Linked DNA regions of Homo sapiens. The protein of the gene in region 1 interacts with the protein of each later gene in a pairwise test. Each region holds a gene or a part of one and is shown in the gene's direction. Other genes may lie near its edges.

What was found.
Region 2: the proteins of SPACA1 (region 1) and NRSN1 interact in binary tests that used the Homo sapiens proteins (3 or more experiments, as listed by UniProt).
Region 3: the proteins of SPACA1 (region 1) and CD72 interact in binary tests that used the Homo sapiens proteins (3 or more experiments, as listed by UniProt).

What each region holds. Positions count from the first base shown.
Region 1 is NC_000006.12:88,046,412-88,050,797, forward strand, and holds the start of SPACA1 (sperm acrosome membrane-associated protein 1 precursor), read left to right. Parts: upstream 1-1,429; 5' UTR 1,430-1,494; coding exon 1,495-1,702; intron 1,703-4,386. UniProt on the Homo sapiens protein: Plays a role in acrosome formation and establishment of normal sperm morphology during spermatogenesis. Important for male fertility.
Region 2 is NC_000006.12:24,143,130-24,145,697, forward strand, and holds part of NRSN1 (neurensin-1), read left to right. Parts: intron 1-2,418; coding exon 2,419-2,568. UniProt on the Homo sapiens protein: May play an important role in neural organelle transport, and in transduction of nerve signals or in nerve growth. May play a role in neurite extension. May play a role in memory consolidation.
Region 3 is NC_000009.12:35,612,300-35,615,425, reverse strand, and holds part of CD72 (B-cell differentiation antigen CD72), read left to right. Parts: intron 1-2,432; coding exon 2,433-2,578; intron 2,579-3,126. UniProt on the Homo sapiens protein: Co-receptor of B cell receptor (BCR) that plays both positive and negative roles on B-cell functions. Recognizes the Sm/ribonucleoprotein (RNP) self-antigen ligand, and coligation of CD72 and BCR inhibits BCR signaling.

The sequences.
Region 1 (4,386 bases):
AAAAAGGATACTATCTTCAGGAAGCAATGGATCCTAAAATTGACTTTGAAACACTCAACAATTTGCCAGCAACAATACTATATATCATCTTTTTAAAGTTTGTGTTTGACGGCATAATTTTTGACTTATTTCTCTCAGGATTCAAAAAAGAAAAATTTTGACTCATTTAGCCATGAAACAAAGGCCTTTACTTCTCAAGATCAAATCTAAGTTTTCCATGTTAACGTCCCTCATAATCTTGTCAAGCGCTATATTTTAAGGTATTTTAATTGACATAAATGTTCCCGAGACTTCTCACCAATACCAATTTGAACTTTAACACTGAAGGTGTTTAGCAGTCCTTGTATTTTCAAAATTAGAAGCCTTTGCAGGAGAAAATATTCAAATACAAAATTTCAACTTCTGCTTCAAACAACCTATTTTGTTACAAATAAGTGTTTCTGAAGAACCTCTTAATACTTTTCTGTTACCCCCCTTATCTGTTAGTCTGCTGAGACTAGATATTCAAATATTCCAAAAGCCAGAGTGTATGCAAGTTCACTTTCATCTCACTTGTCATAGGAATTTAAACATTAAGCCTCAAAGTATGGCACCCTATATGTCTTTTCAAAAACAACAACAAACAACCACATTGTGACTACTAGATGAGGTAAAATTTGTAATAACAGAATCAAAAAAGTCAACCCTAACTTTTCAGCGCTTGAACTCCCAATCACCCCCACTAAAGGCTTCTTCGTTAACCTTGAATCATAAGAATCACTGATCATCGAGTAAGTAAGTGTTCGGGAGATATGACTGTGAGATCCAGCTTTGTAAATAATTTCTGGATTTTTGGGGCGAGTCATTTCATCTCTCTGATTCTTAATCTCTTCACTTAAAAATGAGGGACTTGGAGTATCAGATGATTTCTAAATTTCTTCTTACTCAAAGTCTATTATTCTGATCCCAAAGAAGAAATCGAATCCTTCTCAATACATCCCAAATTGGATATTCTGGATAAGAAATTTTGAAACCAAGTCACACGAAGAGTATGTGAGGGATAAGAAGTCTAGTTTGGGGAAGGGTAAACATTATGTACGAAAAAGAAATGTCTTAAAAGAAAGCAGGCAGGGTGAGCGAGGAGGCTGAAGAGTCGCTCCATAAACTGAGGCAGAAGGAGCAGCCGACAGCAACGCCTACCGCACCCGGAAGGCTCAAGGAGGCGCCCTGGGCAGGGAACTTCCGGTTGCGGGGAAGGGCGGCGTCCTCTCCTAGGGACTTGTCGCACGCGGCTTCTCGTCGCGTTCCGTCTTGCACGCCTCGCAGCCTAGCTCCGCGCGAGTTCCAGGCGCTCAGCACCGGAGCAGCGCCCCGGCAACCATTGAGGCGTCACGGTTCGTCACGGGATTCGGAGCCGGGCGGCTACGGGCGGGGTGTCGCAGCTCTCTTCGACGTACCTGTCCTCAGGAGCCGCGGCGGCGACTGCGCCTCGGACGGCCGTCGGGGCCGAGAACCATGAGCCCCAGGGGCACGGGCTGCTCCGCCGGGCTGCTGATGACTGTCGGCTGGCTGCTTCTGGCGGGCCTCCAGTCCGCGCGCGGGACCAACGTCACCGCTGCCGTCCAGGATGCCGGCCTGGCCCACGAAGGCGAGGGCGAGGAGGAGACCGAAAACAACGACAGCGAGACCGCGGAGAACTACGCTCCGCCTGAAACCGAGGATGGTGAGGGCGGGAGCTCCCTTGCGGGGCACGCGGAGGCCCCTGTTGACGGAGCAAAGGCCTGCTCTTTGCCTGAGAACCATAATTATGTGTGTTAACGTCAGGAGAGCTCTCTCTCATACTTCAGCCCCGAGTTTGTCCCTTTCTTGCATCCTGTGGCCTTGAAGAAGAATGTGCTCATTCTCCCAGGCCACAGCAAGATACACAGATAAGCACGTATATAGAAATTGCTATAGAAACACTTCTAAATATTGCTTTGGACAAGGAAAAAGATTTTTTTTCAGGGTGGGAGGTAGCCTTCCAACAAGAGGAATCATTTTGACTCCTCTTGCAGTCACTTTCCCTTCTCATAGTAGATTTTTTTTTTCAAGTTCCAAGTTGCTTGATTTCCACATTTGCACTTGGGGTTGCAATGGAATTCAGAATCCCCCTTTACGACGATACACCCAGATAGACCAGTATGCCGACAAAACTGCCCAGAAGCCCCATGGCAGCTTCCTGCAGCTCCTAGCCTTGAGCACCTCTGCATTGTGGTGTTTGATTGGTATGTGCGGCCTCGGACAAAGGAATGGAGCAGTAGAAAACACCTGTCAAGGGATCCAGCTAGTGGCTTTGTTAGATGCTACATATTAACCAAGGAACAATGAGCCCCCCGCTTGGTACATACATTTGCTTTTTTTTCTGCTGGCTCATTAAGCAATAAAACTTGACAGGCTGTTGTACATGTCATATTGATTAGTAACTCACATTCTAGCAGGTAGAAGGTCAGCAGCAGGTTTGCTGCCTTCTCAAGAAAGATTATTCCTTTCCCTTCTAAATGACCCAGCTGCAATTCTTTTAATATTGTTTGCATTCTCATATCTCTTCAGTCTATACATATCGAGTGACTGCTGTGTCTACCAGCCTTTCTTTCATTTCCTGATAGTGATCCTCAGCACCAACAGAAAGAAATGAACTGTCTGAGGTTAACAGTGGGATCGAGGTTTGCACGGCCTTGTAACATTATACTACAGAGAGCTTAAAAAGATCCTTGACTTCGGAAATGTGAAAAAGAAAGATGACTAGGAAAGAAGAGAACACGTCCTAAAGCATAGTAGCTATTGCTTCATTCTCTTCTTTAAAGTAATTGAATTAACAATTTTAGTATTAAACTGGCCAAGAAATACTTCTAGCTATAAAATGCTAAATATTATTTAGGCTAAACTCAGGCAATAAAGTTATAATGTCTTACCTTCAAATTAAAATGTAGGTTAGTTACTTATTCTCTGAGTCACAGTTTCCTCATCTACGGACTTCAAGGAATCCATGTACTTTGTGGGATTTTAATACATACTATTTCATGCATAAGTGCTTTTTCTTGGGGAGCGAGAGAATCCAAAACTTTAAACAATCTGAGGTGTTATAGGTCTGAAAATTTCCAGAACCATTATTGAAATTTGCACTGTCCCCTTAACCCTCAGTGGATCAGTAGAAACAGTTATCCCCATTTACTATCCAGTGGACCTTTAATTTTTTTTTAGTCATTTAAAAATAATTTACAAATAAGAATAAAGGGATAGTGAAAACAACTGTGTTAGAAATTTCAAGAAGAATTTAAACATGGAAAAATTCAAATTTTTATTCCATATATCCTAGTTTTGAAGGTGTATGTACTCTAACTGGGCAAAGTACTTTGAATGCAACTAAGTGCTCAACTGTTAAGCATGAACCTGGAATGCATTCATCATGTTAATACTGATTCCAGATTTTGAGTGCATCGTTAATAAATTCTAGCTTATCATTAATCTTGGTTCTTTTTGCACTTGTATTGTCAAAAAAACCAACACTTTTGAAAACTACAAAGGCATATATTTTGTTGAAGAGAAAGCCATCTTCTTTTCTTCATAATTGGAAAATATTTTCATCTTTAGATTTATAAACACCAATTAGAATGATTGGTCCAATGAATTTTACTCATTTCTACATAATCTTTTCTTTCAGTCACCTTTATATACATATCTTTCATCACAATATGTTCATTTACAAACCTTGGCAAATAAATGTTGGTGCATAAACGTTATAAAAAGGGAAAGAATACCGTCCTCATCCTTTTAGCGAAACAGTATGGCACAAGTTATTGTCACAGTATATTTCAGGATTAAATCTTTCCTGTTGTCAGGCTAACTACATGATAATACCATATATTCTTTTCATCCCCAGAAATATAATGTTTACTCATCAATTCTTAAGTTAGAGAAAATTCATCTAGTATATTCATCCAAGATAATCATCATCTCTCATTGAGATTTTGCTTATACAATCAATTTCATCATCATCATTAGCATCCAAAGTGCTGTTATCTGTCTCTTTTCATCTTCTGATTCGTTCAATAATTGTGAAATGTTTTTCTCTGTCAGTTTTCTTCTCTTTGCCATTATGGGCAAAAAATGAAAAATTGTGAAATCTCAACTGTGTTCAATAAAAGCCAAAAATAGACTACAAGGAGGATACCTCTAGACTTCTTTTGTATCTTCTTGAAAGATGATGCAATATCTTGGGCAAAGCAATATGAAAACATGGGATGTTGTAAAATAGCTTGTGTTAGTGTAATTCTTTCACCATTACATTATTTTTCTAGGCAATTCCAATCATTCTTTCATTTTTAAATTTTAGTCATTTAAAAATGTAGTTGAAAATAATGAGCAATA
Region 2 (2,568 bases), about 64 Mb from region 1:
GTGTGTTTACAATCCTTTAGCTAGACAGAAAAGTTCTCCAAGTCCCCACCCGACCCAGAAGCCCAGCCGGCTTCACCTCTCAGTCTCAAACTCCTGACCTCAGATGATCCACCCACCTTGGCCTCCCAAAGTGCTAAGATTACAGGCATGAGCCACCATGCCCGGCTAAAGTATGCTTCTTTAACCTTATAATCCTCAGTTTCTTATAGGTGAAATTGGAATAAAAATACCTACTTCTCATAAGATGCTTGTGAAGATTAAACAAAAAACACATCTAGCATTAGTGCAGGTCATAATAGATGTTCAATAATACCAGTTATACTTTTCCCATTTTTGCTAGGGTGATAGATTTGTGGATACGTTTTCCTTCTATTAGCCAAGCCTCCTTTATTAGTATATTATCTCAAAAATTTAAATATTAAAGATTAATTTATGTTATGTATCTGGTTATTTTCCTAACCTTGTTATTCTAACTAAAAGCAATTAAGAACAGAAGGAAAGGAAAAATTACTTTAAAAAGTAATGGTGTTAGCTATTCCTTATTCCAAGTGCTGAGCAATCGTAATACTGTTACCAATGTAGCATAACAATTTTTCAAGGGGTGTCTTTCCAAATAAGAAGAATAGCTACTTATTACAATTTATAATTTTGCCAGATACAATGTATAACTTTGCCAGATACAAGGCTAAGTGCTTTTATGGATAGTCTCATTTAGTCCTCACAAGTCCTCTATGAGGTAGGTATTATGAGCATTTGTCATTTTATAGATGGGGAAATTAATGACAAGAGCTTTTAAGTAACTTTCCTTCTATGATTCAAGTGCTAGGTGGTGGTGGTAGAATCGAAGCATGCGTCCATTTATTTCAAACCTATGGGCATTGACCACCAAATGGTACATCATTTCCATCTTTAGTATGTTACATTTCATTAGAACTTGAGCTAATGCAGTTTAACCTCCATCTGCTATTCTGAACACTTCCTAGCACCTGCACAAGTATACCCCAAATAGCTACATGTGAGAGGAGAAAGAACACTGGCCTGGGGATCAGCTCTGTGGGTTCTAACCCTGCCTCTGCAGCTTGCTAGCTGTCCATCTTTGGTCCATGACTTACCCTCTCTGACGCTACATTTCTTTACCTTAACTGGCCATTAAGGTTCCTTCTCTGCTTACTTTGAAAAGAGGTGAGTAGTTACAAAGACTGTCCATGTCCTCCAGCCAAAACCACCAGGAACACACCTATATGTTGAACAAGTTGGATGTATTACTCATTACAGTAAGAAAGAATGTCACCATAGGGGACTGTGGGGCATTGCAATATGAGAGTGTGAAAAGGATGTATAATATTATAGGATGTGGGCTCTGGTTGGGTGATTTTGGGGAGGGTCTAATGAAGCAAGAGTTCACTCTGGATTGTTAGGGACAATTCTATGATTGGATATCTTAATATATCTTATGTATAGAGAGGACAGACTAGAGTGAGACTAAAGCCATCATGAGAAAGAAGTAGGTGTCATTCATATTAGCCAGGAGCGGGGGTCATGTCGTATTTTGTGGTTTTTACAAGGACCTTGTTTTTGTCTGTGCTTAGACAAAGTTATGAAGGGCTACTGTTTTGTCTCACTTCATCATGGTCACAGAATGAGCATGTGTTAATGTTCTGTGAGATGGTGCCTGGCAGAACAGCATGGCCTTGCTGTGAGCTCCTAGCCAGCTTCTAACAATGTCGAGGCCTAGGGGACAGAGTAAGGCCAGCTCCTGGATATCAGGGCTACTCTTCTTTTCCTCAAGACCAAATGAGACAATGTAAGCAAAAGAAGGTTTTGTCAACTGCAAAGCATTGTACAAATTTAAAAAAAAAAGATATTTATATATATATTTACATATTACATATCTACTTTTAGATATATGATATATATTATATATAATATATATCTTTAGGTATATAATATATATTATATATTTTATATATATCTTTAGATATATATATAATATACATATCTTTAGACATATAATATATAATATATATATCTTTGGACATATATATTATATAGATCTTTAGCTATATATAATATATCTTTAGATAATATAAAGATTATATATATCTTTAGATAATATAAAGATTATATATATATCTTTAGATATACAATATATGTATATCTTTAGATATATAATATATATATATGATATATACATATATCTCAAGGCTGAGTGCTGGAGTTTTTGGTTGGCATTAAAATTAGAAAGATCATCTTTCACCTTTTTCAACAGAAAATTAAGTAAGTGTTTCCTGCAAATTTGGGGTAACTGGGAATATTCATTTCTCTCAAGAAACAAGACAAGTGCTGCCCTTGAGGGCTCAGGGGCGAGCCGAAGCACCTTCCTCACTCTATCTTGCTTCTGTCATTATCTACCTGTAGGTTGGACTCATCTCAGGTACAGTTTTTGTGATCCTCGGATTGACTGTTCTGGCAGTGGGCTTTCTTGTGCCCCCCAAAATCGAAGCATTTGGCGAAGCCGATTTTGTGGTGGTCGACACACATGCTGTCCAGTTTAACAGTGCTCTGGAC
Region 3 (3,126 bases), on another chromosome or scaffold:
GGGGTGTCCATTCATTTTGAAAGCAGGACCCCAGCCAGTAAGTGGAGATGGGGAAAGGGACACATAAAAGAGGCAAGGCTGTATCAAAACAGGCTGAGGGTCTAGGCAAGGTGCCACGCCTAAGGGGACTGGGGTGTTTTTGGGCTATGATCAGGTTTAGGCTCTGTCTAGCTTGGGGGTCATCTGGGTGATCTCCCCAGGCATAAGACAGCAAGATTATGTGCAGACACCCCTTGCCCTCATTTCCTTAACCTTACCCTCTGTGACCATCAGTTCCATGCCAGGGCTGCTCTTAGCAGCATGTTAGACCTCTACCTCCCAAATTGCTCTTCCGGCGAAAGGATGGTTTCAGACTTCCACTCTGATCACAGCTGCCCACCACTCCTGCAGGTTTTCCCCACACTTTTTTGATCTCATCAAGGCCTCCAATCTGCTGACTCCCCTTTTTCTCCCTTCCCATCAGTCCAGGCCTCCAATCAACTGATTCCCCTTTTTCTCTCTTCCCATCAGCTTCTCCTGTCCACACTTCTCTCCCTACCTAACATGGGTTTGGAGCCCATCACTTCAACTACTCACTTATTTTTTTAAATAGAGACAAGGTCTCACTATGTTTCCCTGGCCGGTATCGAACTCCTGGACTCAAGCGATCCTCCTGCCTCAGCCTCCCAAAGTGCTGAGATTACAGTCGTGAGCCACCGCACCTGGCTCACTCACTTCTTTGTTCCATTATCCTTCTAGTGTACCTGATGGGCAAAATTTGAACTCTGGATGAACCCAACTGCCCATGGTCAGCATCAAGGTGTGACAAATTGTGGAATCATTCTGCTCAGTGCCACTGAGACTCTAGTCTCTCAGCACTGCCTGGCAACCTTTGCAATGGTCAGCTTGCTCTCCATAGTAACTCCTTCTCCCTCACTTTCAGCAGATGTCCTCATCTTCCACTCTTTCAGAGAGGAATTCCCTTCACTTTCCATCACCAAGTCTATATATCCATATGGATTTTTGCCCATCCTCATCTTTTGCAAGGATATCTGCAACAGCTTTCTAAATGTTTTTCCTACTCACTCCTCTCCCTGCAGTCCATTCTTCATATTGGAGCCAGGGTAATCTTTTACAAACAAAAATCTGATCGTGTCACCCAATCTACAGCATTCCAGTTAATTGATTACATAAACAGTTATGGAATACATAACATATAATATGTTCTAGCACTGTGCCCAGGCACTTGGGATATAGCTAGTGAACAAAATTCCTCTATGTAAAACCCTACACTGACTTTCTCTTCCTCATAATATAAAAATAAAAATCCTTAACATGGCTTCCATCACTCCTGCCTACCTTTCAGTGTGCCACTTATCTCCTCACCCTCTTCCATTTGGCCATACAGATTTCTTTTTTTTTTTTTTTGAGGCGGAGTCTCGCTCTGTGAGACTGAAGTGCACTCCCAGGCTGGAGTGCAGTGGTGTGATCTGGGCTCACTGCAACCTCTGCCTCCTGGATTCAAGCTATCCTTTTGCCTCAGCCTCCCGAGTAACTGGGATTATAGGCATGCGCCATGGTGCCTGGGTATTTTTTGGTATTTTTAGTAGAGGTGGGGTTTCACCATGTTGACCAGGCTGGTCTTAAACTCCTGACTTCAGGTGATCCACCCCGCCTCGGCCTCCCAAAGTGCTGGGATTACAGAAGTGAGCCATTGTGCCCAGCAGGGATTTCTTTTTATTCCTTTAAGTTGCCATAGGACAGTAGCTCAAGGGAGTAGCAGGGTGGGGACATGAGCATATGTAGAGAGAAGAGAGGGAGCTAGTGGAGAGGGAATGATTTTTGAGTGATGAAGGTAGGACTGATGGAACAAAGCAATGGAGAGAGGTGGCCTGGGATCAGAAGTGCACATTGGGATGTAGGATGTTGAAGAAAGAGGGATATTTATTTCTTATGGATAGTCAGGAAAAGAAGAACAGAGAAGAGAAATTTTGAGGTGGAGAGGAGGGAAAAGGAGAGAGCTCAGTTTCTGCAAAACAGTACACAACATTTTCTGCTTGTAGGAAATTGGAGAGGGACGGAGGGGGCCAGTGCTGGAGGAGTGGAGGATGTGCAGTGAGGGGTGCTTTAGGGAGTGGAGGAGATGGGCCCAAGAGATGTTAGGTAAAGTGTCAGGGTGGACTGCAATTGTTCAGAAATTGGGGTAATAAAATCAGCCCTATTAAGACAGACCTCCCAGATTGCTAAGAAGTAATGTTGTTGAATGTTAAAGTCTTTTTACTAAGTAAGGACAGGTATGGTGTTTCCAGGGGATGCAAAAGAAAGATTGCAAAGATCATAGAAGTCCATGAAGGTGCTGAGATTAGCTCTGGGGGAATATTGTTAGCAAAAGATTGCTGAGTAGTCACTTTCATCCCAACTGTTGCTGCTATCACACTCTTTCTGCTTTTTAGACACCTGCTGTCCGTCGGGATGGATAATGCATCAGAAAAGCTGCTTTTACATCTCACTTACTTCAAAAAATTGGCAGGAGAGCCAAAAACAATGTGAAACTCTGTCTTCCAAGCTGGCCACATTCAGTGAAATTTATCCACAATCAGTAAGCATATCCTTACTCACAGACTGCAGTGGGTACTATTAGGTAAAGGGACATATGTCATCAAGTCAGGAATGGCAGTGCACACATGGCTGGGGTGGCCATTCCTTTTCCATGGAAGAAACTGAGAATCATAATACTCTTGACCTCTGAGCTTGGAAACAACCTCTGCATCTTCTCAGCACAGTGGTCCAGGCAGCCCCTAGTAACTGATTAGAGTTGGCATGAGAATGGAAACTTAACCATATCTACATTTTTTTTTTTTTGAGACAGAGTCTCACTCTGTCACCCAGGCTGGAGTGCACTTGCATAATCTCAGCTCACTGCAACCTCCGCCTCCTGGGTTCATGCAATTCTCCCGTCTCAGCCTCCTGAGTAGCTGGGACTACAGTCACATGCCACCACGCCCAGCTAATTTTTGTATTTTTAATAGAGTCGGGGTTTCACCATATTGGTCAGGCTGGTCTCTAACTCCTGGCCTCAGGTGATCCACCTGCTTCAGTCTCCCAAAGTGCTGGGATTATAGGTGTGAACCACTGCGCCCGGCCTCT